Regions from separate parts of the Homo sapiens genome. Here regions 1, 3, 4 and 5 are each linked to region 2. The links come from fine-mapping of genetic effects on gene expression. A gene starts in region 2. Each other region holds a variant in brackets. All regions are shown on one strand. Distances are from middle to middle.

What was found. PIP is the estimated chance that this variant, and not a neighbour inherited with it, causes the effect.
Region 1: its variant is fine-mapped to the expression of VLDLR in whole blood (INTERVAL, PIP 0.99).
Region 3: its variant is fine-mapped to the expression of VLDLR in esophagus muscle (GTEx, PIP 0.90).
Region 4: its variant is fine-mapped to the expression of VLDLR in lung (GTEx, PIP above 0.99).
Region 5: its variant is fine-mapped to the expression of VLDLR in whole blood (INTERVAL, PIP 0.97).

The regions. Positions count from the first base shown.
Region 1 is chr9:2,651,903-2,658,055 of GRCh38, forward strand. It overlaps VLDLR (very low density lipoprotein receptor), which reads left to right. Exons shown (of 19, transcript NM_003383.5): 17 at 1-52; 18 at 878-1,047; 19 at 1,931-6,153. The coding sequence ends at 1,966. It overlaps LOC105375957 (a long non-coding RNA gene), which reads right to left. Exons shown (of 3, transcript XR_929436.3): 3 at 1-1,108. Among named protein-coding and RNA genes, the nearest start is that of VLDLR-AS1, 33 kb to the left of the region's middle. The variant C/T (reference allele first, on the strand shown) is at 2,715.
Region 2 is chr9:2,618,772-2,624,924 of GRCh38, forward strand. VLDLR (very low density lipoprotein receptor) reads left to right here and starts at 3,016. Exons shown (of 19, transcript NM_003383.5): 1 at 3,016-3,500. The coding sequence starts at 3,419. It overlaps VLDLR-AS1 (VLDLR antisense RNA 1), which reads right to left and starts at 3,602. Exons shown (of 4, transcript NR_015375.2): 1 at 3,329-3,602. RefSeq lists an enhancer at 2,558-2,852 and silencers at 2,731-2,810, 3,421-3,690, 3,961-4,050, 4,061-4,150.
Region 3 is chr9:2,483,676-2,489,828 of GRCh38, forward strand. The region is part of intron 2 of LOC101930053 (a long non-coding RNA gene); the gene reads right to left. Among named protein-coding and RNA genes, the nearest start is that of VLDLR, 140 kb to the right of the region's middle. The variant C/G (reference allele first, on the strand shown) is at 3,227.
Region 4 is chr9:2,490,513-2,496,041 of GRCh38, forward strand. LOC101930053 (a long non-coding RNA gene) reads right to left here and starts at 3,709. Exons shown (of 6, transcript XR_001746603.2): 1 at 3,668-3,709; 2 at 2,563-2,913. The variant T/G (reference allele first, on the strand shown) is at 2,869.
Region 5 is chr9:2,642,300-2,648,452 of GRCh38, forward strand. VLDLR (very low density lipoprotein receptor) reads left to right here. Exons shown (of 19, transcript NM_003383.5): 5 at 861-1,232; 6 at 1,329-1,451; 7 at 1,538-1,660; 8 at 2,435-2,554; 9 at 2,658-2,783; 10 at 3,275-3,446; 11 at 4,035-4,253; 12 at 5,175-5,293; 13 at 5,909-6,048. Among named protein-coding and RNA genes, the nearest start is that of VLDLR-AS1, 23 kb to the left of the region's middle. RefSeq lists silencers at 3,415-3,464, 3,475-3,534. The variant C/G (reference allele first, on the strand shown) is at 2,902.

The sequences.
Region 1 (6,153 bases), 33 kb after region 2:
GTCAGTGTTCCCCCAAAAGGGACTTCTGCCGCATGGGCCATTCTTCCTCTCTGTAAGTAGATTTCCTACAAGTCTGGGTTCAAGAACTTCTTAGATACCAGATGAAGATTTTTTGTTCATCTGGAGCTACCCCTTTCATGGGCCTTTATGCTGTCTAGCATTTATGACACTGAATTACGTTCGCTTTCTCCCCCACATAATACACTAAATTAAGGCCCATATCTTTCTCTTCAGTTGTACCTTTGGCACAGTAACTGGCAATGATAAGTGTTCAACGGTTAATGCTTTCTACTTCCGCACTGTTAACCTGGCTTATCCCCTTTTATAATAAGTCTCTTTAACTAGTGTACTGTTCTGTTCCCCCTTTGAAATGTGTGTAATGCTTCATACAGAGGAGATGCACAAATGCTTAAATGCTAAGAGTTACAGGACTTGTTGAGGATAAATTAAAAGCAGTTAAGAATTTTCAAACCTATGGAAAAGGACCTCTAAACGAGACACGCAAATTCTAAGGACTTTGCTATAAAAACCTTTGTCCTAAATGAAGAGACCCAAGCTTAGCTAACACGCCAGGACCACCTGAATAGCTCTCCAGAACCTTCTGCAATTTTAATTTGGTGAGCCTAAGGTGGGACCGAGGACCCTGCCCTTGCCTGGATGGATGTGGCTAGTCCAGCTCCAGTGCACAGAGCTACCTCTGGGCTGAACTTGTTTCAAGCTCCTGGCCCATGTGTATTCCAACTTCTAGTTATCCTAGCTCCATAAAACATGGCATTTTTACTAATGTCAATTATTATGGATTCCTGAACGTTATTACCTTTCTTGTATGTTCCAATACTAGACTTAGCTCACTTAGCTACCCTCTGATTTTTTTCAGTGCTCTTAGTGATGGCAGCAGTAGGTGGCTACTTGATGTGGCGGAATTGGCAACACAAGAACATGAAAAGCATGAACTTTGACAATCCTGTGTACTTGAAAACCACTGAAGAGGACCTCTCCATAGACATTGGTAGACACAGTGCTTCTGTTGGACACACGTACCCAGCAGTAAGTCAGCTTTGTGTCTTTATACACCATGGCTTGAAGTGAGACTTTTCAGAAAGGAGACCTGGGTGAGAGAGAGAGAGCCATTAGGATGATGGAGTTACCAAACACTTCATCTGCTACCTGGCTATTAGACAGACAGTATAGCCTGTTAGAACATAAGTCACTCAGTTGATCAGCATCTAACCCTCACCAACTGACAAGTGGGTCAACTTAAAGTCACCACTATATTAAGATATTTTTGGTTATAGAAATGACATGTAAATACTAGCATGAACCAAGTAGCTCATTACTGAACTATTAAATCCATTGCCTACTGGATATTTGAAAGTAAATTAGCATATCATATATAGGGGAGTTGGCTTAAAGTCAGTGTATTGAGTAAGATTCACTTAGCCAAAATTATTATATGCTTTGCTTTAAAAAGGTATCCCACCGCCCTTAGTATAGCTAGCTTTTCTTCCAGCAATAGTCACTCACTTGTTCTTCAGATGAAACCCAAGTGGAGTATTTGGCCTTCACGTAGGAAACAGGCTGAACAAAACAAGTATTGATCACTCCCCTCTCAAACTCCGGTGAAACATGGAACAGTGGTCAATTCTTGACACACACATGGCTTTTCACATTTTTCCCCAAGACTTATGATCATTAAGTAGAAAAGACAGAATTAGTCACACTATCTTATCTCACTACCAAGCAGGTATAGTTGAATTCAAGTTAAATGCATGAATGATACAACTCAGTATTCTTTTGTATCTGACTGACTTTTCTTCTAAGCACTCTGAGTGTTTGAATGACCAACTCAAAAGCAAGGTCCATTTTAAAGACTAGAGTTGCCATCAGTGAGTGATCACCAAGCTCATTCTATACTTCTTCTTTTCCACAGATATCAGTTGTAAGCACAGATGATGATCTAGCTTGACTTCTGTGACAAATGTTGACCTTTGAGGTCTAAACAAATAATACCCCCGTCGGAATGGTAACCGAGCCAGCAGCTGAAGTCTCTTTTTCTTCCTCTCGGCTGGAAGAACATCAAGATACCTTTGCGTGGATCAAGCTTGTGTACTTGACCGTTTTTATATTACTTTTGTAAATATTCTTGTCCACATTCTACTTCAGCTTTGGATGTGGTTACCGAGTATCTGTAACCCTTGAATTTCTAGACAGTATTGCCACCTCTGGCCAAATATGCACTTTCCCTAGAAAGCCATATTCCAGCAGTGAAACTTGTGCTATAGTGTATACCACCTGTACATACATTGTATAGGCCATCTGTAAATATCCCAGAGAACAATCACTATTCTTAAGCACTTTGAAAATATTTCTATGTAAATTATTGTAAACTTTTTCAATGGTTGGGACAATGGCAATAGGACAAAACGGGTTACTAAGATGAAATTGCCAAAAAAATTTATAAACTAATTTTGTACGTATGAATGATATCTTTGACCTCAATGGAGGTTTGCAAAGACTGAGTGTTCAAACTACTGTACATTTTTTTTCAAGTGCTAAAAAATTAAACCAAGCAGCTTAACCATGGTTTGTGCCTGTTCCTCTAGGATGAACTCCTATCCTGAGTAGTACCAAGTGTTCTAACTAAATGTGTGAGCTGTAGTTCTTGATGTTGTATAACTAAGCCTGTAATTGGGCTGGTTTCTCTTACACCCTAG[C/T]ACAGTTAAAAAATGAAGTACTGTTTAACATTTGCTCCCGAAATATTTCTTACTGTGTAAAAGAAGCTAGCTTAGTCTGTACCTAGAATTCCTCTTGGTTAGAGGAGTGAGTTTCTTTTTTTTCCATTAACTTGTTTCCTGATCGAGAAACACGTGCTAAGATTTCTATGAATTCTGCTTCTTTATAGTTAAGTCTCTGTTTTCCATGTTCTGTCATTTATATAGGTCAAGGACAAGTGCCTTCTAAGGCATGGATAAGGGCTTTCTTCTTATGAAAGTCTAGACTGTCTTACTGTGAAGATGGCCAGGGAGGATAGCAAGCAATGGCATTCTTGAACAGTCTAAGGCAGGTTTCTCAGTGTGGTCCTGAGAACAGAAGCATCTGCATCACCTGGGAATGTATTAGAAATGCAAGTTCCCAGCCCCATCCCAGACCTACTGAATCAGAAACTCTGGGGGCGAGGGCTGAAACCTGCTTTCATAAGCCCTTCAGGCGATACTGATGTAAACTAAAGCTTAAAAACCACCGTTTTACTGTGACTTCATGAAGAATATAATTGCAATATCACCTAAATTTTTATCCTGGCTGGGATGGGGCAGATTCTTACTATGGACAATTTCTGGAACTTACAGTATGAAGAGCAGATGAGGAGTTTGAGACAAAGAAAAAATTGTACAGGGAGTTTAGTGAATTTTCCATCAGGTTGGCCATTACTTTCTTTCTCTAAAGTCTCAGGATGTCTGGAAGCAAGGAAAGACAAAAGACTTGAAGCACCGGGTGCATGCTGTGTGTCACAAGTGAGGTGGAGAGTTGGCTGTGGAAGGTACAGCAATTCCTCTGGAATTAAATGACCGACCAACACAGTACCAAGAGGATGAAGAGAAGATGTTTTGCGTTGCTACGTGAATCAGTGGATGACTCATATTTCACTTGCATATGAAATATAAGGCAGTTAACATCTTGTTTGTGGCTTAAGCAAGGACATTAATCCTACTAGATGAAGGGGAAGTTGGTTCTGTTGTCTTAAGGGATGCCCCCTTGTGATTTTGGTCAACTGAATGAAAAAGAAAAGATAGCCTTGGACTTTTTTTTCATGGGAGGTTTGGAGGTCAAGCATGTAGAAGGAAAAGGCTGTAGTCATGAATATAGAACTGTCTGCTCTCCACCTTTTCCTCACTCTACATTTAGTCATCACACTGAACAGGATGTGGCCTGCTGACAGTGAGTAGCTGAAGTGCCTGTTTGGTAAGTAGGTTAGCATTCATCATGAACTCTGAAAGCCATTTCAGAGTTTGGCTGCTGCTCTGACCCTGCTGTGGTACAAAAAACATGGATTTTTTTTTTTTTAACTGGAGTAATACCAAATTCCCTTTAGAAGCTTGAAGTTTGATACTATTGCTTTCCCCATTATAAGGATTATACAGTATTAATTAATTATAAGGCCCAAAGTTTGTTTTGGCAAATAAAGTATTATTCTCTATCATCATCTTTTGAATTCCTGTCCCTAGTATGTTCTTTCATGTTCTGGGTAAAATTTCCAACCCTCAAAGAGTCTAAAACGTCTCATTTTTTTTTACCACGTCCTCCCCAGTAAGAAGCCAAGGTACAACTCATTGTACCTACGAGGTACAAACTCATTTGTAGAAACAAAGTAACTAGATATTCCTATTGAAATAAGAATAGATATATTGGTGGGCCAGGCATGGTGGCTCACGCCTATAATCCCAGCACTTTGGAAGGCCAAGGCAGGAGGATCACTTGAGGCCAGGAGTTCGAGACCAGCCTGAGCAACATGGTGAGACCCTGTCTCTACAAAAAAAAAATTTATAAAAATAAAAGAAAAAAATAGTTATATGACTAAACTACTAGTCAATACAGCTTGCAATAATAGTGCATGAATGATAACAGGCCTCGGCTTTATCACCCAAAAAATAACTTGAATTCTATGTGAAATGTGTTAGGATAAGTTTGCTCTGTCTCTAGAGTTCAATGTAGAAGATAATTAAGAGGTAAAATATGAAGCTTATCATACACTAAAGGAGAATATTTGGAGTTAGATGAGCCTGTCACACAAAGTGAAAGTGGACCCTCCAGAAATTTTAGGAATTGCCACAAAGATTGATGATAGATGAATAAACAGATTTGTGGCCTCTGGTAAAGAAATCCAGCCAAGTTCCTCTGTCCAAATTTTTAAGTGCCCTTTGCAAGCTAATCTATTTGGCAAAAAAATAGTCCCAGTTGTTCAACTAGCTCCCTTAAAACATTCTAGTAGGTGTTTTAAAGCCTAGGTATCGCTGCCTCTTTAGTTCTTGATGAATACAAGGCAAAAAAAAAAAAAAAAAAAAAAAAAAAATTGAGGCTTTCACTTTGGCATTTGCTTCTGTTCCTTGTATCTGTGGAAGTCAAGTAGCCCTTCTCAAAAATGAGAAGCCAAGCTTTAAATAGCAAACTACAGGGTATTAAAAGACTAACTCTTCAGTTAAGAACACTGTAGAAATGGTAGACCAACTTAAAGTCTACCTTTTAACAATCTTTACCCCAAACCTAAAGATTCTAGGGGTCACTTATCTCTATTACGTAATCTAACTGGAATAATTTCCTAGAATTCTTACTAGTGAAATCTTACCCAAGTAAAACAATTTATTATTTTGAATCCAAATGAAAGCTATACTGTTTGCTTTCAATGGTGGCAAAAACTTGCAAAAAGCAGATATACTTTTGCTAATTTAAGTTGAAGTACTATGAATACAACCTGCTAATCTTGATCCCCAAATCTGAGCCCTTCAGTTTCATAATTGTTTTATCCTGAACGTAGTTGTGACATAGACATTTCTCAAAAGGGTCTGATACATCAAACTCCTAACAAGTAGGAGCAGCAACTAGCTAAAGAGTAGAAAGAAGCTTCCCTTATTGTGGGTGATGAGGCGGTGCCTAAAAACCACATATATATAATCCCCTGGGTATTACATATTCTGCAAGCCCTGTTAGTGGGGAGATGGTAGTGGCAATAGCAGCGATAGTTGCGTCAGTGCTAACTGCTGCTGCTGCCCGTTCTGTTGGCGGCTGCTGGCCAAGTGTGCACACTTAGCCCTGGTTGAGGTGCATTGTCTGCTGTCGTCTGTTAAGCATCTAACCGGAGTGGGAGGGCACATCAAGCGATTTCACTCTCTTAAAGAAAAGGTTTTTAGGTATTTTTGGTATTATATAGTCTCTAAGGCCAGAAGGGGCTTATAATGACTTCTCTTCTAGAATTGTAATACTAAAAAACTACTCGAGTAAATATCCTAACAAGTATGATTTTTCTTGGGAAAACTAAAAATTGTACATCCATGCTTCAGCCATATCATGGGCCTAAACTATGAGAGTTCAGAAATATATAAAAGTACAAAAATCTTCAAAGGTACTTATTTCCAAATATGGAGGGAATGAATCTGAAGA
Region 2 (6,153 bases):
TCTATGTGACCAGTGCTAAAGACACATAGACAGCAGGGAACTACTCACATGGGTAGTTCTAAATGAATCGAATCACTCGGAGACCTGGGCTAATGCAGCAGCCACCTCTTAAACATTTCTTGTCACCACGCAGACACAAAGAGAGGGTTTCACATAAGCAATTAAGTGCTCCGGTCTGAAAGTGGCACCCTGTAACTTAGGCTCACAAATAATTAGCCAAAGTTAGTCTTTCGACCCCATCCAACCATAAGGGGGCCAGGACGTCCAATCCTACCATGTGTCCAGAAGTAGGGAGAATTCAGATCACCGGGTAAAAATTATGAAAAAAGCTCAGAGACAAACGCTCTGTGAAGCCTTTTCTGATACCTTCATCCTGCAGCCAGAATAGCTGCTTCTTCCTTGCAATCTTCTAGCACTTTAAGCATCTCTTAATCAGAGTGCTATACATAGGGTACTACAGTTGCCCACTTGCCTGCCTCCCCTACCAGATGCTGAGCTTCCTAGATAAGCACTTCTGTATGCCCACTACTTTGCACAGTGCCCGTTAGCCAGGGATGCTCACTATGTGTTGCTTCAACAAATAAATGAATGTGGTGGATTGTAGGAGTGAATGGGATTGCCTCTGCATTTACCTGACGGCGTCGGGAATCCAGCAGTGTCAACTTCTCTGAACCCAGTTAGTTCAACCATTTCAGTCTCCACTTATGATCAATTAGCTCTGTTAGTTCAACCACTTCAATATCCACTTATCATCAATTTATCTTTTTAGTTATTAGCTACTTTCTATCATAATCCAATGAATTTCTCCATACAACCTTTTTCTTCTAATAAACAACACCTTGCAGAGAGCTGGTCCTTGAGGCCACGGAGCACTTTGATATAATGTGGCTTGGCTTTCTTTTCAGTTTACAGGCCAAAAGGCAGACACAGAGAGGCACAGTGATTTTTCCCAAGTTACACAGTCAATCAGAGATGGAGCCAAAAGTTATGCTTTCTTTTGAGTCAACAAAAAAGCTACAGGATTGAATACAGAGCTGCAGCTAAGTTCACTGAAAGTTTATTTATATCCCTTGGAGAATTAGAAAGTACTCACACACGTTTTTCAAAGTTAAGTCTTATTATACCATATCAATGTATAGCTTGTAGTATACCTGTATCTCTGAGTAAAGTATTAAAAACAAGTCATATGACTGTTTATTAATGCTGCCTCTTTTTGTATTGATTCCACCCATCCCTTCTACTCCTTTCCTCTTCTGTAAAGCAGTAGCTCATCAGATGGCATTTCAGAACCCTGAGAATATGAAAGACATCATGCACTAAGGTTTTCCTATCACATCTCAATGCCATTAGGTGAATAACACCGGCATGCATCTTCACTACTAAATGTCATACAAACAAATTTCAGTTGTTTCACATGCAACCTGTGTGGCTGCTGCAGTTTGTATCAACTATGTAACCACAGGGTGGGCAAAATAGCATTCAAAATGAGCTATAGTGCAAGATACCATCCATACGTAGAGTTAAGCCCTTTCATGCTTAGCAGTCACAATCAGGATATCTTTGGCCCACAGAAACCTATCCTGACTGGAATTTTCCTCTCCTGTGTGTCTCCTGGATATAGTAAGTTCCTAATAAACATCTCCTCTGATTGCTAGCCTTGACAAATTTCCAGGAGAACCAGGGCAAGGAGAAGACAGTGAGGCAGTGCCCGCTGCTCTTCAGATCACCAACAGAATAGAGTCAGAATATGATATTATTGAAACCTTCCAAGTTTGAATTAAGATAAAAACAACTTTTTCAAAATACCAAAAACCTTTTATTTAAGAAAGTGAAATCGCTCGATGTGCCCTCCCACTCTGGTTAGATGCTCAACAGACCACAGCAGACAATGCACCTCAACCAGGGCTAAGTGTGCAAGAAAACTGAAGTACACAAAAAGCAAATTATAGACTCAGGTACTGTCAGGCACAAAAGAAGAACCAACCCTTTCTAGGAGTCTTGTCTTTGCTTCCTTTATTCTTTCCTCGATTCTTGTAATTGAATGTTACAAAGTATATCAAGAGGAATAAACGTATGGGGCCCCTCTCTTCCAAACAAGAAAAGGTTAAGCTTTTAATTACAGGCCCTCAAACTATCATTTTGTGCAATTAGCAATTAACTATAATCGTTGATGAGCAAATGCAAAGCTGCGCTAGCAATTTCCCTTCTCCTCATCCCAGGCTGGGTTATTTCAGTCTTGTTCTATTACAGAGGACCAGCCACAACCGCGCGCACTCTCTTTCAAACATACACACTCTCTCACTTAAAGACACATTTAGTTTTCGGCAAAACGGCATCTCAGCGTGCGATTGAGACCGGCATCCCAAACCCCACTTTTGAGCAGCCCAAACGTTTGGAGCCCCTCCGCTTCATCACTTTCTGAGTGGATAGAGGAGGCCCGAAGAAGATGCTACCTACCAGCCTCTCTCAGGGGCGCAGGAGAGGGTGGTAGAGAGATGCTTGTTGCCCCTGGAAACTGCAAGTACCCCCCAGGTGCACGCCCCGTCAGTGGGGAGGCGGTGGCAACAGCAACGATAGTTGCATCAGCGCTAACTGCTGCTGCTGCTGCGTGTTCTGCCGGAGGCTGCCGGGAGGGTACAGTAATGACTGTAGGGAGCGCACAGCCGCTGCGGCGGCAGGTTCCCTGGATCAGGAAATTAGGACAGGCACCCGGGATTGGAGGCGAGGGCGGCGCGCGAGCCAACCAGCGGTCGCCCCGGGCCCCCGTGAGCCCCAGGCGAACGCGCGGAGCAGCCGGGCCCCTAGAGCGGTCCGGGTGGCGGCGGCGGCAGCCACGACCACGACCGCGGTCACTCACGCACGCTCACACTCGCACGCTCCCCGCGCGGGCACCCGGCTGCCCGGCGCGTGCAAGAGGAGCGCGTCGAGGGAAAGGAGGGCCGAAGCCGCCGCGCTCCCGCCCGCCCGCCGCGCCTCCCGTTGACCACGCCCCCTCCGGCCCCCTCCCCGCTGCTCACCCCGCTCTCCGGCCGCCGCCGGTGCGGGTGCTCCGCTACCGGCTCCTCTCCGTTCTGTGCTCTCTTCTGCTCTCGGCTCCCCACCCCCTCTCCCTTCCCTCCTCTCCCCTTGCCTCCCCTCCTCTGCAGCGCCTGCATTATTTTCTGCCCGCAGGCTCGGCTTGCACTGCTGCTGCAGCCCGGGGAGGTGGCTGGGTGGGTGGGGAGGAGACTGTGCAAGTTGTAGGGGAGGGGGTGCCCTCTTCTTCCCCGCTCCCTTCCCCCGCCAACTCCTTCCCCTCCTTCTCCCCCTTTCCCCTCCCCGCCCCCACCTTCTTCCTCCTTTCGGAAGGACTGGTAACTTGTCGTGCGGAGCGAACGGCGGCGGCGGCGGCGGCGGCGGCACCATCCAGGCGGGCACCATGGGCACGTCCGCGCTCTGGGCGCTCTGGCTGCTGCTCGCGCTGTGCTGGGCGCCCCGGGAGAGCGGCGCCACCGGAACCGGTGAGTGAGGACGCGCCCCTCCGCCGGCGGGCGGGACCCAGCCGGGGCACCGGGAGACCCCGAGGCGTAGGTCTCCGTTTGCCCACCCGCCTCCTAGGAGGCGCCTCTCGGTTCTCCTCGCCTTCCCTCCCTCCCCTCCGTGGTGGCGCCTCTGAGCTGTCAGCGCCGAGGCTAAAGGGAGCCGGGCTTGGGGAACAGCGGGGTTCGGGGTGCCCCGACGCCTCGCCTGAACTAGTCTTCTGCCCCTCACTCCGCCTCCCCCAGAGCCGCTGCTTCGCCTCGTTTCTCGCCCTCTTGACGGGCGCCGAGGTGCGTGGGCTTCTGAGCATTGAACAATGGTTCTGCCTCCTCTGCCAGGCGCAGTGTTGGGAAGGAGGCAGAGGGCCAAGACGTGTGCGGCAGCCTCGGGCGCACCCTCGAACCCCGGGGAGTGCGGGAGCGGACGGGGGGAGAAGGTGAGCGCCTCCGGGGACGCGGAGCGCCAGGGGCCGGCCGGGCTTCAGAGTCTTCCGGCGGCCGCGAGCTGGCGCACGTTCGGTGGGCGGCGGCCGGGAGGCTCCGCGGAGCCGAGGGCACCCGGACTGCGACTCCCCCGGCGCGGGGCCGCCTCTCCGGCGTGCGGGGTAGGGGAGCGGCGGGGCTTTACGCAGGACTCTGCTCTGGGCGCTTCTCCTCTCCCTTTTCCCCGCCTCGGGCGGCGTTTGGAAACCGCTCGGGTCTCCCGTGTAGCTGAACGCGGAGGGGGAGTGGAGGGGAGACTTAATCAGGTTAGTTTGCTGACCCTCCTTCCCGGTGACGTTTCCTCGAGAGGAATTGAGTCCTAGGCTAGTGACTGTAATTAGCCTTCATTCTACACAATAGCTCAAAGGAGCAGCGCGAGAGCGAGCGTGTGGCCCTGTCTTGTTGGGAAGGGCGGCGGTGACTACTGTCGGGTCCCCAGACTCTGCCGCGGGGGCCTGGGGGCCCCGCCTGGTCGTCAGCCACGTTCCCACTTGGGGCCTCGTAACTTTCCTGGACAGGCGACAGGAAGCCTTTCTGAGAGGACTCAGTCGGAATCCTAGCGCGTCCCCGAAGTGATCTTCAGATGTGACGCCGAGGGGCTTGCTTGCCAGCTGCAGGGAATTGGGACTGAAAGCCGCCCAGGCCCTTAACACCCGTTCCAGAGTCCCTGGCTCCCGTCGCCGGGTGGCTTCAGGGGCCCTGCCGGCCTGCAGTCACGTGCTCCTGAAGTGAGAGCGAACTTTAAAGCATGTGGTCAAGGAGCCTGTCGGGCAGCGCCTGGGGTTTTTACGTCTCCGAATGCCCCTGCCCTTTGGTTGCCACTGTCCGGAGCGTGTGAACTGGGACTGGCCTTTCCGCCCTCTGCGATTGGTTAGCGGTGCGATCACGTTTAGGTTGGTCACATGGTTCCGCGGACTCTTAAGTGGGCAGCATGGGCAGTGTTATTTTCAATGGAAAGTAGGAGACTCCACAGGCTCTTACGGGCTGTTCTCTCAAATGCCTTCCCCTGCCTGGACTCTTTGAAGAGGACGAATGTGTAGTGAACATGGAATCTGATGTGTAACAAGCCTGAGAGCCTAGAAAAGCTCTGCTTACAAGAGTTTCCAAACGCTAGCATTAATCATTAATAGATGAGTAATACTAACTTATTAAACGATTTCTCAGTATAGTGCCATGACTTGCATTATGCCTTTTGTAACATTTCAAAACGCTAAGGTATACCAGAAGGAGGGACAATTATCCAGGAAGGTGAGAGAAAAGTTTCGTTTTTGCTGCATGTCCCTTCCACTAGAGGTTAACTTTACCTTATAGAATGCTAGGAATGCACCTAAACTACTGACATGAGTTAGTCAAAGCCAGATGTTCACCTTGTATTGGGCAGGTGAGGATCCTTTTCACTTTGTCACATGTGAAATATTTGACATGCCATGAACAATGGAAAAACAAATTCTTCAAAGGAGAGGAAGCAGATTCTTCCAGAACTGGAGGAAATTTGGGCTGAGGCAGTTATTGACCCTAAACCAATCCCAACCGGCATCTGTCTTAAGTTCAAAGTCTCAGGGCATGTGGGCTGACTTTCTACCCTGGAGCTTCTACACATACCCCTTCTGTCCACTGGCACATGGTGCTGTTCCACAATACTCCTGGACAAGACAGGTGAACACTGAGACTCTGGCAAGGAACTTAAGGCTAACAAGAAGTTGGTATACCTGATTGCACAATTCCTGGGGGTTCTGGGACATTTTCCTTCAGCCTAAGTAGTCAAGATTAAGATCTGTGGTATGATATATTCTTTAAGGCCAGAGTCTAAAAGAACCAAGGTTTTTTGAGAGCTATTCATATATGGCTAGCAACTAGCCTAAGAATAGAAAGAAAATTCCCTCATTGTGAGAAGTGGGTTGGTGGTACTGGTGGTAGTAATAGACCTGGAGGTAGGAAACTGGTTGGCATGGAAAGTAAACTTGGCTCATCCAGATAGCACCAATGAAGGTATGACGATGATAGTACCCCTTATCAAAGACTGATCACTCATGTGAGCAGGGACTGCGTAAAGGAAGGTCACCAGCCAAGCCCTCCTTGGCAGTAACAGCTTCATGAAATCCAGTGTAGCTTTGTTCCCTGGATCACCCTCTTGCCCACTTTATGTGGCATT
Region 3 (6,153 bases), 140 kb before region 2:
TCAAAGAATGAAGGGGACATACCACAAGGACACAGAAACCAGTTTGAAGGTGCTCCCACTGGCCTAATCTAGGATAATTTGAACACTAAAATAGATAATTTCAATAATGGATCATAACTTGACAAATTAAATATGAAAGTATGAATTCATACCAATATAAATGAACAAATTTTTGAAGAAAAGTGGGACATTTATACAAACTCAAAGTAACTTTCCACAAAACAAAATGATTTCAAAGGGGAAAAATTAACTTTATGGGACAGAAACGTGACAGATAACATCTTAAGCAAGCAAATTGAATATCACCAGTAATGGGATAAATCTAAATCATAAACCATTTGGTAAGATACAATGAGAAGAACACTGTATCCATCCTGTGATATTTGGGCCAAAATGCAGAACCTGAATCTAATAATGAGGAAACATTAGACAAACAGAAATTGAAGATCCATTTATACAACAACGGGCATGTAATTCTTAAGTGTCAAGGCCGATAAAGTTAAGAAAAGGGTGAACAATTGCTTCATATTGAAGGAGACATATGACAACTAAATGCAATATACAATTCTTATTTTTGAATAACAGATTTATTGAAATAAAACTTAAGTCGCAGAAAAGTCACCCTTTCGAAGTATACAATTTAAAATTTATTGACATATTTGCAGAGATATGCAGGAATCCACACCATCTAATTTTAGAATATTCTCATCCCTCCAAAAAGAATTCCCACACCCAATGGCCATCACTCTCTAGTTCCTCTCCCAACACCCCCTAATCTATAGGCAACACTAATCTACTTCTAGTCTCTATGAAATCTTAAAACATACTGTCAAATTGTTCAGAAAAAAACAGGTTTTTTTGTACTGTACTCACAACTTTCCTCTAAGTTTAAAATGGTTGAGAGATAGAAAGAGACAGAGAAACATCACATTCACATAAACAGATGCTGAAAGATTTTTTTAAATAAAATTCAGCATCTACTGTTGATTTTTTAAATTGTGAAAATGTCAGAATAAATGGACATTTCTTTAACAAATATGTATTTACTTTGATAACTAAACCAAAAAGCCAGTATCATGCTTAATAATAAAACACTAAGCTATTCTTATTAAACTCAGGAACAAATCAAGATGCCCATTATAACCACTATTATTCAGCATTGTTCTGGAATTGCTAACTAATGCAACAAGACAAGAAAAAAGGATGGGCTGGGCGCAGGGGCTCACGCCTGTAATCCCAGAACTTTGGGAGGCCGAGGCGGGTGAATCACGAGGTCAGGAGATCGAGAGCATCCTGGCTAACACAGTGAAATCCTGTCTCTACTAAAAATACAAAAAAAAATTAGCAGGGCGTGGTGGCGGGTGCCCGTAGCCCCAGCTACTCGGGAGGCTGAGGCAGGAGAACGGCACGAACCTGGGAGGCAGAGCTTTCAGCGAGCTGAGATCGTACCACTGCACTCCAGCCTGGGCAACAGAGTAAGACTCCACCTCAAAAAAAAAAAAAAAAAAAAAGATGGGATTCAAATATTAGATTTAAAAACTATTTACATGAATATGAATGTTTAGCAAGCTCACCGTTAGGTAATACATATTAGATTGGTGCAAAAGTAATTCCGTTTGTGTTTTTCTCATTGTGGCAGAAACCAAATTACTTTTGTGCTTTTGCCATTATGGCAGAAAGAGCAAGTACTTTTGTACTAATTTATTACACAAAAATATATAACTTTCCTAAAATCAAGAATAATCTAGTAGTGGAATCTCAAAATCAAAGCAATTAAATTCATGGAGATGGAGAATAGAAGGATGGTTAATCAGAGACTGGGAAGGGTAGTGCGGGAGCTGGGGCAAGGTGGGCATCGTTAATGGGTACCAGAAAAAGTAGTTAGAAAGAATGAATAAAACCTAGTATTTGATAGCACAACAGGGGGACTGTAGTCAATAATAATTTAACTGTACATTTTAAAATAACTTAAAGAGTATAATTGGGTTGTTTGTAACACAAAGGATAAATGCTTGAGGGGATGGATACTCAAGCCTCCGTGATGTGATTTTGACACATTGCATGCCTGTACCAAAATATCTCATGTACCTCAAAAATATATACATCTACTATGTACTCACAAAAATTAAAAACAAAACAATGTTTAAAAAATAATAATCTGATAGGAGACACAATCCAGAACACATTCCAGTCATAATGAAATAAAAAACTAAAAAGAAAATCATGCATTGGGAAAATTATTCGGGATTAATAGCCTTTGCACTTAAATAACTATTACAAATCATTAAGAAAAATAAAAATGTTCTGATAGAAAAGTTTATTCCCTCAAAGAAGAAATTTAAATGGCAAAAGACAAATTTTAAAATGTTCAATCTTACTAGTTATTAAAATGCGAAATAAAACAATGGAACTCCATTTGTTTTTGTTCATCAAAGTGTCAAAGGCGTTTTTTAATGAATGTGGGTGCAGATTGGTCCTGTGAAATTACTGTTAGTGATAATGCATTCTATTATTAAAACTTTCCTAAAGGACAATATGACTGATTATAATAATAAGCTCAAAAACCTTAATTATCCTGTCTTTTAACACAGTAATTTTACTTATAGGAACCTACCATTTTCAAAAATGTATATAAAATTTAGGTACCTGGTGTTTACAAACGCACTGATTAATAACAAAAAACAATCAGAGACAACATGAATGTCCAATAATAGGAAACTGGTTGAATAAATTGCAAAAATTTCAATGTGATTAAATATCATCTAGCTAATAAAAATGATGTTGTTCGAAACATGTTCACAAAAGATTGTTCAAGGCCCTTATAAAATGTAATCAATAATCAATGCAATCAATCATCCCTATGCCTAGAAAAAAATTGATTTTTATATTTCAACACATTAAGAATGGTAATTTTGCTTGCTCATAATTTCTAAATTTCTAAATATTTCATAATAAAAAAAATCACAGCTTCTTTAAAAAAAAAATCATCTCCACAATGCTAGATGAGTCTATGGCAACCAGTGAGAAAAAAACTGGGCTTTTTTCTTATCAACCAATTTCATTCTGAATCTGAGGTTTAATGTAGCTGCCAAACAACCAAGATGCTTGAGGATTCTCTGGCAGAAGTAGGGAATCAATAGCTAGATAAGTAACAAGCCCATTTTATTCTTTCATGTTTGGAGAAAGCTTGGAACATTGTGCTCAATTAGAAGAGGGGCACTTAAGG[C/G]ACATGATTCCTGGGAAATGCCAGGGAGTTCTGTGTTTAACAGCTAAGTTGATGAGTAGATTTAATCCACTGAAAAGAAGGGTTAAGAGTAATATAAAAAATTTTCTTCAAATTTCCAAATGACTGTCAAGAGAAAGAGGTGTTAGACTTATTCTTAGCAGTTCTAAAAATAGAACAAGAACCAATGTACAGAAATTGCCCAGATAGCTTCTAGGGACAAGACAAACTGTTCCAACAATAAGACTCACTCCACAAAGGCAGAGGAGGTGAAACACAACAGAGGTCTTCCAGCAGGGGCTTCTAATGACTCATTAGGGCTGTTGCAATATAGATTCCAGCCTTGGTAAGAGACTGTAGTAGACACCAGGTCTCTAAGACCTGGCAACTCAAAGTGCAGTCCATGACTGGCAGCACTGACATCACCTGGGAACTTGATAGAAATGCAGATTGTTGCCCCATCCTTACATCTAATTCATCAGAATCTACATTTCTAAAGAACATGACTTATATGCACATTAAAGAGTGAAAAGCAGATGTGGAAGAGGTCTTCTAACTGTAGCCTCTCCATCCACTTGGGTTCTTGGGTTCTCCTGTTGCTACCCCTCTTTCACCTAATCTTACATGACCTACCAAATCCCCACTGAATACATAATTCATTAAAGGCAGAAGACCTGTGGGTGGTTTGGAATAGAATAATGAGCTTCCAAACTAATGTAATCTGATGAATGACTACATTGCTTATTAGTGAGAATTTGGGAGGAGAGGGATTCCACTGAAATCCATTGACAGGTAAATGGATGTGAATGCAGCCACGTACAGTCTCCTTGGGCCCAATGATTCAGACCGTGTGAAGGGCTCCCACCTTCCTATGATTCTCATTCATCATTCTTACTCACCTCCTGGCAGCAACTGTAGGCTGCCCATCTACTCTTTAGGATTATCTACAGAGGAAAAATGACATTTTGCCTGCCAACCAGCAAGTGTGCATACATCAGTCCTATCCTCTAAGAAAGTCTATCCTCGTAGATGTAAACCTCCAACTGTCGGCAGCTGATAGTCCAAAACGTCAAAGAAATAAATAGTGGAAAAATAACCAGACGTCATGTATAAGTCAAGGACCAGAGCATTTAATGGTAGCTAGATGTTAAAGAATTGCAAGACCAGGCTTCACTTCTCTTGCAGCTTCATCTTCTGCCAGTCCCTAATTCATAATGCTTTATGAAGAACCAAATGCTTCCAGTGCCTAGAAATACCATGTCTTTCATGCCTTTCCTGTTACCTTCATCTGGAGGGCCCTTTAGACCTGGCTCTGCCTGGACAACTTCTGCTCATCCTTTAACACTCAGCACAGGCTTCACCTGCTCTCCCGGGGAGGAGGACAGGCTGCATGACCTGCTGCTTCTCTGAGTTCCCCCTGTACCCTGTTTTAACCTCCACTGTGTCACATAAGACCAGTTCTGTTCAATAGAAATAGAACAGGAGCCACTGGGCTCAGTAATCCCGGCACTTTGGGAGGCCGAGGTGGGCAGAACATTTGAGGTCAGGAGTTTGAGACCAGCCTGAACAACATGGTGAAACCCCATCTCTACCATAAATACAAAAACATTATGCAGGCATGATGATGTGTGCCTGTAGTCCCAACTACTCAGGAGGCTAAGGCAGGAGAATCACTTGAACCTGGGAGGCAGAGGTTGGAGTGAGCCAAGATCGCGCCACAGCACTCTAGCCTGAGCAAAAGAGTAAAACTCCGTCTCAAAATAAAAAAGGAAGGATATATAACAGGAGCCACATAAATTTAAAATGTCCAGTAGCCACATTTTTAAAAAAAATCTAAAGAAACAGGTGAAATTAATTTTAATTGTGCACATATATATATATATATATATATATATATTTTTTTTTTTTTTTTTTTTTTTTTTTTTTTTTTTGAGACGGAGTCTCGCTCTGTCGCCGAGGCTGGAGTGTAGTGGCGCGATCTCGGCTCACTGCAAGCTCCACCTCCTGGGTTCATGCCATTCTTCCGTCTCAGTTTAATTGTATATTTTATATAACTCGATATCTAACTGATCTAATTATCATTTTGACGGGTAATTGACACCATGTTAAAACAATTAATTAGATATTTTACATTATTTTATCAATAATAACTTGTTAAAATCAAGTGTGTGTTTTACACAAAGAGCACATCTCAATTCAAACTAATCACATTCTCAGTGCTCAGTAGACACATGTGGCTGCTGATGACTATGTTGGACAGTACAGCCTTATACTGAAATAATCAGTTTCTGGGTTTGCCTTCCCTTCTAGAAAGTATGCTGCTTAAGGGCTAGTCAATGTCACATGTGTGATATCATCAGTGTATCTTCAGTGCCTTACATATATGGAGCATTCATGAAATGCTTGCTGAACTTAACTGACCTGAAGGTACTTTGAGAGAAGGTAGAATTTTATTTAGCACCTGCTCAAACGAAGAGCAGCTTATGCATACTTAGGATAATTATGATGACAGAAATGACAGATATTTTTTCTTGAATGATGTTCTATGCTTTTTAAATATATTATCTCATTTAGCCCTCACAATGACCCTACATACCATATACCATTATTATATCCATTTATGAAAGACAAAACATTCCCCAAATTATACAGCTACTAAGTGAAAGAGCCAGAACTTTTTGAAATAGAGAAAAACAAAGTAAATAATATTAATTACATGTACACTCACCCACCACAATAAACCAAAAGTTGAAAACAAGCTACTCCACATAAATTAAAAGCCCTCTCCAATATGGAAGACTTCTCTTAAATTTCATTCACCAACTCCTGCAATATCTTTTCCAGAGCCTGGTGATCTGCTGAGTTTTCCCTTATGCAGGACCTACTTCTTTACAGATTTCTGAGCCAGACATTTCTGGCTTGGTATTTAA
Region 4 (5,529 bases), 130 kb before region 2:
ACCAAGTTGCTACCCCATCTTTTGGTGGGGTTTTTTTTTTTAATGCTTTTCCTATATTGGGAAGGCAAAAATAAACCCAGGAGGAAGCAAATATTTTCATTAAAATGATAATAAAATGTCATCCCTATGAATATAAAGGTTTAACCGAGTACCCTGCTGAGCAAATGAGCTTTATCATAAGCATGTGGAACAGTGTGCTGGGCTGAAATGGATTTCAGAAAAATTTATATTAGAGCCTTATTCACAGAATTAAACAAACACAATGAAAACAAAGTAGTTTTTTAAAGCAGCTTCCTGCCATGAAGGCAATACGACGGCACAGAAATGGCTGCCCTCAAAGGGGCAACTCCAGCCCGAGGGCGCACCTAACTCCTTGCCTTCAAGGATGCCAAAAGCATCCCATCCAAGCCAGGTTCTACGTGGCAGGAAGAGAACATTGACACTCAGATAAACAAACACTGTTTGCCTAGCCCCTACTCACGAAACTTTATACCATAAGCCATCTTTAATTCTGGCTGCAATTTTAAATGGTCCAGAGACTTAAAAATTACTTCCATTTGTTTAGATCTGGAAAGAGCCTTGGAAGACATCTAAACCCACCATTTAAGAATACTTTTAAGCTACACAACCCTTTTGCCAATTCAATCTAATGGATACAGAATGGATCAATATTAAAATGGAGCTCCTTGGGTAGGGACTGTGGTAAAAGACCCAGAACTCCATCTACTCATTCTCTCCCGTTCCCTGTGTCTACCTCTACCCCACAACTTACCCACACTGTGGCAGACCCCCATAACTCTCCCCAGGGCTGCAGAGAAAGGACCCTACAAAATACGGAAGGGTCTACTACCTTTTGTGTGTGTGGTTTCTTGTGACAGATAAAAAATTGAAACCCAGAACGTTTAACACAGGACTTCCATTTCCAGCAAACTAAATAACCTGGAAAGCCTCCTTCTAGAAATACATGGAATGCTAGCTAAATACAAATATCCATTTAAATTCATAAAATGAACTCACGTAGACAAACTTATCAGTTTGAAAATGGGAACAACCTATGATCCAGCAGGTCCATGTCTATGTATGTATCCCAGAACTGTTCTTCAACTTGTCAGTGAAGATGCATCACTGGGTCATAAAACCCTTTCCTAAATTAAAATGGTGTATGAAATAGTCCAGGTTAAACTGAATTAGAGGTTAAGTGTGGTGGCTCACACCTGTAATCCCAGCCTTTTGGAAGGCTGAGGCGTGTGGATTGCTTGAGCCCAGGAGTTTGAGACCAGCATGGGCAATGTGGTGAAATCCCATAAATTAAAAAAAAAAAAAAAAAAAAAAAAAAAAAAAATTAGCTGTGCGTGGTGGCACACACTGGTAGTCCCAGCTACTCAGGAGGCTGTGGTGGGAGGATCACTTGAAGCTTGGAGATCGAGGCTTCAGTGAGCCATGATTGCACCACTGCACACCAGCCTGGGTGACACAGCAAGACACTATCTCAAAAATAAATAAATAAGTAGGCCAGGAGCAGTGGCTCACACCTGTAATCCCAACACTTTGGGAAGCCAAGGTGGGCGGATCACTTATGGTCAGGAGTTCAAGACCAACCTGGCCAACATGGTGAAACCCTGTCTCTACTAAAAATACAAAAATCAGCCGGGCATGGTGGCATGTGTCTGTAATCCCAGCTACTCAGGAGGCTGAGGTAGGAGAATGGTTTGAACCTGAGAGGCAGAGGTTGCAGTCAGCTGAGATCGCACCACAGCATTCTAGCCTGGGCGACAGAGCAAGACTCTGTCTCAAAATAAAATAAAATAAAATAAAATAAAATAAAATAAAATAAAATAAATAGAATTAGAATTAAGTAGAAAATAAAGATAAATATTATTCTGAGAAACTTTTGTTCCATATATGCATACATGTACATAAATGTAGCACATGTATGTGCTGGGTTTCCATGTAGCTGTGTGGACAAAACATTTTGAAAAATGCTATTGTAGAGAAGCTTTTGTATGTTAGGAGAAGGAAATGTACAAGAACACTCACTGAAGCATTGTTTATAATTGTGTAAAATTAAAAGCAATCTAAGTGTTCATCAACAGAAGAACAGATAAATATATAGTGGTCTGTTCATGAAACAAAGCAGTTCAAATGAATGAACTAGAGCTAAATCGTTGAGATCTTATGCTAAATTAGATAACAAACAAATGGTAGAATATGTGTGGTGTGCTTCCATTTATTTTAATTTTAAAAAAATGCAAAATGACAGTACATATTGTGGAAAGGTGCATGTGCATGCAGAAAAGGTCTGAAAGCATGTACCTGCAAGATAGTGTTTATCTCTGGATGGAAGAAAGGGAAATGGGATTAAGAAGTCTGCAAAGAACTTCAACTATGTCTGAATCAAACCCATCAAAATGTTAGGATTGCCTCAGACTGGGTGTTGGGACACAGAGTTTTGTTATTTCATTCTATTTTTTTGTTGATTAACTTCCTATGTCACCTGTGTCCATGAACTACGTGAGTTCATTTTATGCATTTGCACATTTAATGTCTTTTAAAATCACTCACCTAGGGCCAAAAAGCTGATTCGCAGAGTATTCTAGACTAAACCGAGGGTGGGATCCTAAGTGATTCGCAGTCTAGTCTTCTTTCCACATGGCTGCCAGTTCATGATCTGTTTGCAAATGAAAGGATTTGCATCATTTGGTCCTAATCTTAGTAATTTATTTTTACCTGAGAGATGATGCTCCCCACAGTCCACCAAGGCCACATCTGCTCTGGCAAGGAAGTGCACAAAGCACATTTGCTTTGTGAAGGCTGAGCTGTTACTTCACAGCTTGTCACTTGGCTCTGTTTCCCAACTTCACTTGTGCA[T/G]TGCAACAAAATGCTAAGCCACTAAAAGGTCAGTAGAGAGATGATCTAAACATGCAAAAAATATCAGCAGAGACAGAGAGAAACACAAAAGGGAGGGAAGGGAGAAAAAACAGCTTTGAATGGGAAAATACACAAACATAAAAAGCAATCAAATTAAAATCAGAATATTACTGAGAAACCACAAAATAAGCATCAGGTGTATTTTAAATGATGGGAGTAACTTGAAAGAGTAGCATTTTTATAGCCTTGGATCACAGATACACAAACTAACAGAAGGAAGTTCGTTAACGTTTGTTTTCGTCTATCTGAAGACAAAAACAAAAAGACAAATGATACCTTGGCAACAACTGGAGAATCATAACAGAGAGATTTATGGTGCTTTGGAAAAGTTCAGGGCAATGTTTTTTATCATTGGCTCCTTTACACTCTTCAAGTTATATAAAAGGCTCTTCTGTTCCTTCTTTCAGACTAAATAAATACATAATCATAACTTCCAGCTCAGCTTTAGCTTTTCAGGTGGGTGAGTTAAAGCCTTCTGCTTTGTTGAGGGGGGTGGGGGCAGAGGGGTGATACTGGCAGAAAATGAAGATAACCCTTGTTGTATAAGGTCCGAGCAATCATTCCCCGGAGTTAAGTAAACTGGGCCAGGTGCGGTGGCTCACACCTGTAATCCCAGCACTTTGGGAGGTCAAGTCGGGCGGATCACCTGAAGTCGGGAATTTGAGACCAGCCTGACCAGCATGGAGAAACCCCATCTCTACTAAAAAATACAAAATTAGCCGGGCATGGTGGTGCATACCTGTAATCCCAGCTACTTGGGAGGCTGAGGCAGGAGAATTGCTTGAACCCGGGAGGCAGAGGTAGCCGTGAGCTGAAATCACGCCACTGCACTCCAGCCTGGGCAACAACAGTGAAACTCCGTCTGAAAAAAAAAAAAGAAGTAAACTGTATGTGATTCTGTCTTTTGGATACCTGTCACCCTGGCATGCCCACCGAGTCCATGAACTATGAACATATTCCTTTTGTACTCCTGGTGAAAACTCAGCTCTGTGACAGAATTCCTTCGGTTGTCTCAAGAGCAAATGCAGCAGCAGCTAGTATTTATTGAGCACTTTACTCTCCTAAGTTTTTTACCTCGTTTAGTCTTTACCTTCTCAGGAAGGTACTATAACTAGCTCCCTTTTATAGATGGAAACACTGAGATGCAGGAAATTTAAATAATATCGCTCAGGTCATCTAAAGCGACAGAACCAGGAATTGGAGTAGCCAGCAGATTCTAACAGCTTGAGCTTTTCAGTGCCACACTATCCTGGGAGGTGGTATTTAAGATAAGGAAAGGCAGCTGCTGAGATGACAGCACCAAATTATGTTAGCAGCCATGAGGCCCTTGCTCCAGCTACAGTGGTTCTAAGAGGGAAGTATTTACATGCCAATGAAGGTGAGTCACTAAAACTCAGAATCCTTTCTTTAGAATTTCTAGCAACCCACAGTATCTGCATCCAGAATAGGGTAGAGACTTTTAGAGCTCCTATATATCTTGCCCTACCCAAGTTATGGCTAATTTCCACTATACCCTCAATCCCCAGAGAATCAAAGTGGAGATGGACTTGGAAATGATATTGAATAAAAGGCAGAAGATTGAAGCCTGAGCTCAGGATTGCCACTTACTAACTGAATGGACTTAACCTTTCCGGGCCTTGTTTTCCTTGTGTGTAAAATGAGAAAAAATAATGCCCACTACATAGGATGGTGAGAATCAAACCAGACAGAGGCATGGAGAACTTTGATGGCACATATTGTTGACATGCAAGGATTTTTTTTCTTCGTCCTATAAGTCAGAGGGCACATTACAACCAAATTCTATAAACACCTATGACAGGGCCATGTGAATCCCAAAGAGCCTTCCTTTGCAGTATTATTATTAACCTTGGTCAGGTCATGTTCCTTTTTTTTTTTTCATCTGTAAGAGGAGGGATATTAATCACTAAGGTTGCCTCCAACTTTGGTATTTTGTGGTTTTGTGTTCGGGGTGTAGGAAAACCAAACCCAGGATTTCTAAATGGCAGGTTGGGTACTTCTAGGCAACCTTACTCTTCTAAGTGGAACAATCACGTTCCTCACATCCCATCACTCACACAAGAAATCTAACATCTATTATAATTATAGTGGTTCCAATGGCCAGCAAGTTCAAGTGTTAGAGAAAAGAAAACTGGATTGTCTACCAGAGGTGAGTGGATATCCCATTTCACAGGCAACCTGTTAGATGTTGGGGTGGTAGCATTCTGACACTTTTGCTCTGGGTTAAGCCAGACATACAAGGAATGCAGGACATTGTGACCTTTGAGGGATCTTCTAGCCCTGTGATCTCATGTGACTGCTTCACTGATAAGTATCACTTGAAACTGATGTCAGGTATGACCAGCCCAGGGCCCTTGCAGGCTTCCTGCCTCTCTGCAGGGTCTCTACACAGGGGACTCTCAAGCACTAGACAATGTCAACAGGGGCAGTCATAACTTGAGGGGGCAACTGGAGCGTGGTCCTGTAGCATTTGTGTGCTAGCTGAATGCTCTCCCAGTCCCTCCAGAGCAGGGCTGACCCCATTCCAAGGGAAGCTAGTCTCCTGGAGAGTGTAGGAGCTGCAGCTGAGAATGATGGATCCAT
Region 5 (6,153 bases), 24 kb after region 2:
GCTCAGGGCACTTACAGTTGAAACACCAGTCTTGTGTGTAGAAGTCGCCTCCTGAGGTCAATACCACTGCACCTAGTCCAATGAGTTTTAGTGTTCAATCCTAGAATTGGGTTTTCTGTATTGGTAAGCCCTGGTGCTGCCAAGTGTTTCCCTTATAAATCTAGACTTTGCTTCCCAAGAGAGTCGTGGTCTCTATTCTAATTGCCACCAAATTGTGACCTTGAAACATTTGGCAGGAATTTAAGTCAAAGTACCAATTGGCTAGTAGGACTAGCTTATCATTGTCAGCATACCTGATTGTTAAATGGTGATTATAGCCCTGGCAGTGACTTTTTCAAAATGGAAAGTGTTTAAGACTTGTTATTCCTGATCCTTATTTAAAGGACCAAAAAGAGGAACCATATATGGTGGTATGTGGTTCACCTCTTTTGGTGACAAAGTCTTAATGCTTGTTGTGAGTATTACGTTGCATGATATTCTCAACTAGTGATAAGATCTGACAAGCAGTATGTTGATTCAAGGACAACTCAATCTCTGCCTTCCAAATTGAAATCCCTTGTTACAGTTTGTTATTTATGATGGCCACTTTTAGAATCAATTGTGGTTCTCATCTCAAATTAATTTCCAGTCTTCAACTATTTTCTTGGTTCTTTATTTCTGTTCTTCTTATTTATTGTGTGCCTTCATTTTTTGTACAATGAGACTGTACAAAAGTTCTTGATTTAACTCCATTGTAGCCTTTAAGTTGGGCTAGTAAGTTAGGATTAATGAATAAAGATCAATGTATTAGATTTTGGGACAAGAATCTTGAACGGACCAATCTTGATGCATTTTCAGTGGGGCATCCTCTCTCTTAATAGGCAATATAACATGTAGTCCCGACGAGTTCACCTGCTCCAGTGGCCGCTGCATCTCCAGGAACTTTGTATGCAATGGCCAGGATGACTGCAGCGATGGCAGTGATGAGCTGGACTGTGCCCCGCCAACCTGTGGCGCCCATGAGTTCCAGTGCAGCACCTCCTCCTGCATCCCCATCAGCTGGGTATGCGACGATGATGCAGACTGCTCCGACCAATCTGATGAGTCCCTGGAGCAGTGTGGCCGTCAGCCAGTCATACACACCAAGTGTCCAGCCAGCGAAATCCAGTGCGGCTCTGGCGAGTGCATCCATAAGAAGTGGCGATGTGATGGGGACCCTGACTGCAAGGATGGCAGTGATGAGGTCAACTGTCGTAAGTAGCTTTCTAGCATGGCATGTTCAGTTCTCTTCCCTGTATCAACTGGGACAATTTGCTGGCTTCATTCCATGGTGTTTCCTCCCTTTGTAGCCTCTCGAACTTGCCGACCTGACCAATTTGAATGTGAGGATGGCAGCTGCATCCATGGCAGCAGGCAGTGTAATGGTATCCGAGACTGTGTCGATGGTTCCGATGAAGTCAACTGCAAAAATGGTAAGGGTTTCTTCTTGTTGGTTAAGCAATGGATTGCTCTGACCAGACCCACTCATGGAATCTCTCTTCTTTGTTTCTCTTTGTAGTCAATCAGTGCTTGGGCCCTGGAAAATTCAAGTGCAGAAGTGGAGAATGCATAGATATCAGCAAAGTATGTAACCAGGAGCAGGACTGCAGGGACTGGAGTGATGAGCCCCTGAAAGAGTGTCGTAAGTGTACTTGTTGTTCAAGTACAGATCCTGGAAGTTTGACACAATCCAGTATAGCTAACACTGTGTGGACCCCCCGTGATGGCTAGTTAAACTTTTGAATGTACTGAAGTTCAATTGTAGACTTCAGAGTGAAACTTTATGACTTAAAAGCCCAGGTAGGACAAACTAGTTTATAGTTTTTGTTTTTGTTGTTTTTTTTTTTTTTTTTTTTTTGAGATGGAGTTCCACTCTTGTTGCCCAGGCTGGAGTGCAATGATGCAATCTCGGCTCACTGCAACCTCTGCCTCCCGGGTTCAAGCAGTTCTTCTGCCTCAGCCTCCTGAGTAGCTGGGACTATAGGCGCCCACCACCACGCCCGGCTAATTTTTTTTTTTTTTTTTGTATTTTTAGTAGAGACAGGGTTTCACCATGTTGGCCAGGCTGGTCTCGAACTCCTGACCTCGTGATCCACCCGCCTCGGCCTTCCAAAGTGCTGGGATTACAGGCATGAGCCACCGCGCCCGGCCCAAACTAGTTTATAGTTTAACCTCCTTAAAGATAACTGATCATCAATAGAGAAACTTGACTAAATGCTTGACCAGCTGGTAACTTGCCGAGGAGTTAGATAATCCACCCTGAAATATATACCTATAAAATAAATGATTAGGTCTTAGACAAATCGTGGGTTTGACCAGGCCAACTAGATAAGTTATCACAAATAGCCTGGGTTTTAAATGTGAAAGATATTAATTGAAAATAAGTTGTCAAGTGACTACTACATTTTTATTCCAGATATAAACGAATGCTTGGTAAATAATGGTGGATGTTCTCATATCTGCAAAGACCTAGTTATAGGCTACGAGTGTGACTGTGCAGCTGGGTTTGAACTGATAGATAGGAAAACCTGTGGAGGTGAGTCTAAGAAGAAAACCTGGACCCTGCAGGTGATGGGAAAGGATAGTATGTACCTAGTAAGGTATAGGAGCAGCAAGACTAATTCTGATTTCCCTCCCAGATATTGATGAATGCCAAAATCCAGGAATCTGCAGTCAAATTTGTATCAACTTAAAAGGCGGTTACAAGTGTGAATGTAGTCGTGGCTATCAAATGGATCTTGCTACTGGCGTGTGCAAGGCAGTAGGTAAATGAACTTGGACTGGTATGGCTGTTGTACCTTTATGAGTAAGTGCCTCTAAAAGGTACAGCCAGTGACTACAATAGTCAAACTAAACATGAAATTGTACTTGAGAACAATGCTG[C/G]TAACCTCATAATACAGCAGTATAGGTCAAATAGCAGATCTCTCCCCTAGATATGTACCTTGATCATTCCTTTTGCATATGATACCATGAATACCTACCAGGTTTGCATGCTCTGTTTCCAAAACTTGAGTCCAACTCAAACAAGTGACTTATTCATCACTCACCCTGTTCTTGAAGGCTGTAACCCCACGACTGCCTTCCTAAACTGTAGGAAGCACTTGCAGGTCCCAGGGGCAGGAACTCCAGAACAGATACTACTGAGGTATTCCACAATACCTTTATTTTCTAAGTGCTCCTCTGCTGGGAGGAGGTGGTTTAGAAAGACCTTGCCTTCTTAAAGCAAAACTAAGTAACCCAGACTTCCATCTTGCAGGCAAAGAGCCAAGTCTGATCTTCACTAATCGAAGAGACATCAGGAAGATTGGCTTAGAGAGGAAAGAATATATCCAACTAGTTGAACAGCTAAGAAACACTGTGGCTCTCGATGCTGACATTGCTGCCCAGAAACTATTCTGGGCCGATCTAAGCCAAAAGGCTATCTTCAGGTAACTTTCAGTTCCTTTTGTGGTGTCTTGACATAAGTCATTGTCACTTGGGAAGTGATCTGTGGGATAGTTTGGAGGAGTTTCTTTTGTGTCTAGCCCCATCTAGCATCGAATTACCTGGGGACATTAAATCTAATGCTAATTCTTTATTAAACTGTTATCACTTCCTAATTAGAAACTAACAATTGTCTATGAAGTAAAAGATGACATCTTTCATATTTTTTATATTTTCTCCCTTTTCTCTACAGTTAATTGAGAACTGTTCATTGTTGCTACAAATAGAAATGGTAGTACAGCCTTTTCTTAATGGGAACTATAGAAACTCAGATGATGGATACTGAAACAAATAGCTTCACTTAGAAATTTGTTGTTCTTGTATATAGAATACATACCAGCAACTAGATAATCTACAGCATTATTAATTTAGGATCAGTAAGCAGCATGGTTAAATAATTTGAGTGGTGAGCTGTGGTGTTAACTGGATTTCTTTCTGAACAAAGTCATTGACCATTTTGTAAGCAAAAAGTCCATTCTCCAAGCTCTAATTGTGTCAAACTCTTAAATTTCTTGTGACCTATTCTGTTTCAGTGCCTCAATTGATGACAAGGTTGGTAGACATGTTAAAATGATCGACAATGTCTATAATCCTGCAGCCATTGCTGTTGATTGGGTGTACAAGACCATCTACTGGACTGATGCGGCTTCTAAGACTATTTCAGTAGCTACCCTAGATGGAACCAAGAGGAAGTTCCTGTTTAACTCTGACTTGCGAGAGCCTGCCTCCATAGCTGTGGACCCACTGTCTGGGTTTGTAGTCTGTTTTCCATCACAGACTTTGGAATGGTATCTGTGTAGGTCAGGAGCTTTCTCATACCTGAATTAGTACTCAAATCTCAAGGTTTATGAGCCTTCTGCAACAAAGAATTAGAATTCTAATTTAAGATATCAGTTTTGCCCCAGGTGAGTGACCCTGGGATGTCCTTATCTATATGACAGGTCCTCCTGTCTGACTCTCGTATGACTGATTGCTGGCTGACATTAATGAATTAACATTCCTGATTTGATGTGTGTACCAAAAGCTGTATCTGAACCCTTTTGTCCACCCAGTTTCTACGCAAGTGATTTTTTAATTTTTGACTGAAAGCTTTGCTGGGCTAGCTCTGGATGATCAAACCTAAACGACAGCCTGAATTGTGAGGATTTGGGTAACCACATTGCATCTAAGTGTGCAAGTTGTCTGAAAGTCCAGCAGAAATAAACAGACCTTTCTAGAAACATTTCACTAAGGGGGTTCTGTAAATTGCCACTAAGTAACATAGAAGAGCAGCTCAGGAAGTTGACTAAGGCTGTAGTTGTCATCACAACTGGCCCCCGTGCAGCCTCATTAGAACTCAGTCAGCCAGCCAACCCCTGCTATGAAATTTGAAGGATGTTCGTCTTGCACTCCTCTGTAAGAACTGACCTTTTAAAAAGGAAACATAACCTTGTGACTTTGGGCCGAAATTTAAATGTCAGACAAACATAGATTATTATAGTTAATAATGAGCTTGTAGATTCTTAATATTCAATTTTATTTACCTAGAACATAATTTAGACCCTTAAGTGTTACTATTTGTCACTAGAGAATGCCTTGAGTTTTCTGCTCAAATTTTAAATTTTTGTTTCCAGCTACTACAACTTTATTCCTTCTAAACCACTGAGGCTTATTTCTCATTTAATTTTTCACAGCTTTGTTTACTGGTCAGACTGGGGTGAACCAGCTAAAATAGAAAAAGCAGGAATGAATGGATTCGATAGACGTCCACTGGTGACAGCGGATATCCAGTGGCCTAACGGAATTACACTTGGTATGTATGTTCTTCCTTCTCGACCACCCACTCAACTATCTTCATAGTGTTTCCATTTATCTCCATGGTGAATTCTGGACTAGCAGATGACTCTACTGCTTCCGCCTAAATTCTAGCAGGAATTTTCAATGGGAGTAACTGAACAACACAAGTAAAATGGTGGATTAACAAATTACACATTCCATAATTACTGGCCTGTTGTCCAGCTGGGCCTAATATGTGACACAAATTCAGTGAACGTTGGGTCTTGGGTGCACTCATACTAAATATTCTGGGCATGAGTGCCTTAGCATTTCCTGAATTGCAGGCTTTTAACAGTTTTCTTCTGGCTTTTTGGAGGAGAACAACAAAATGGTAGCCTCTTTTAATATTTTCTGTAATGTGAGTAATATTTCTTAAGTCATTTGCTTTGAGAATCTCAGGTACCCTGTTAGTCCCCAAAAATGAACGTGGATACAGGCTCTGCATGCTGCTTCGCAAGGTTTATGGTGACCCCGTTAAGAAACCCTGCTGGGGAAAGAACCGTGAAAGTAGATTATTAATTCATTAGATATTTTTAATGGAAGCCAGAGTAGTAGTGGCTTGTCATGTAATGACAATTCTTTTCCTACCTAGACCTTATAAAAAGTCGCCTCTATTGGCTTGATTCTAAGTTGCACATGTTATCCAGCGTGGACTTGAATGGCCAAGATCGTAGGATAGTACTAAAGTCTCTGGAGTTCCTAGCTCATCCTCTTGCACTAACAATATTTGAGGTAAGATGTGTCTCACATCAAAGTGTGTACCTTTGAGCTACTATATCACTTTGAGAAGAAATAACAGACATAGCGGGAGGAGGGAAGAGCAGCTGAACATGGCTT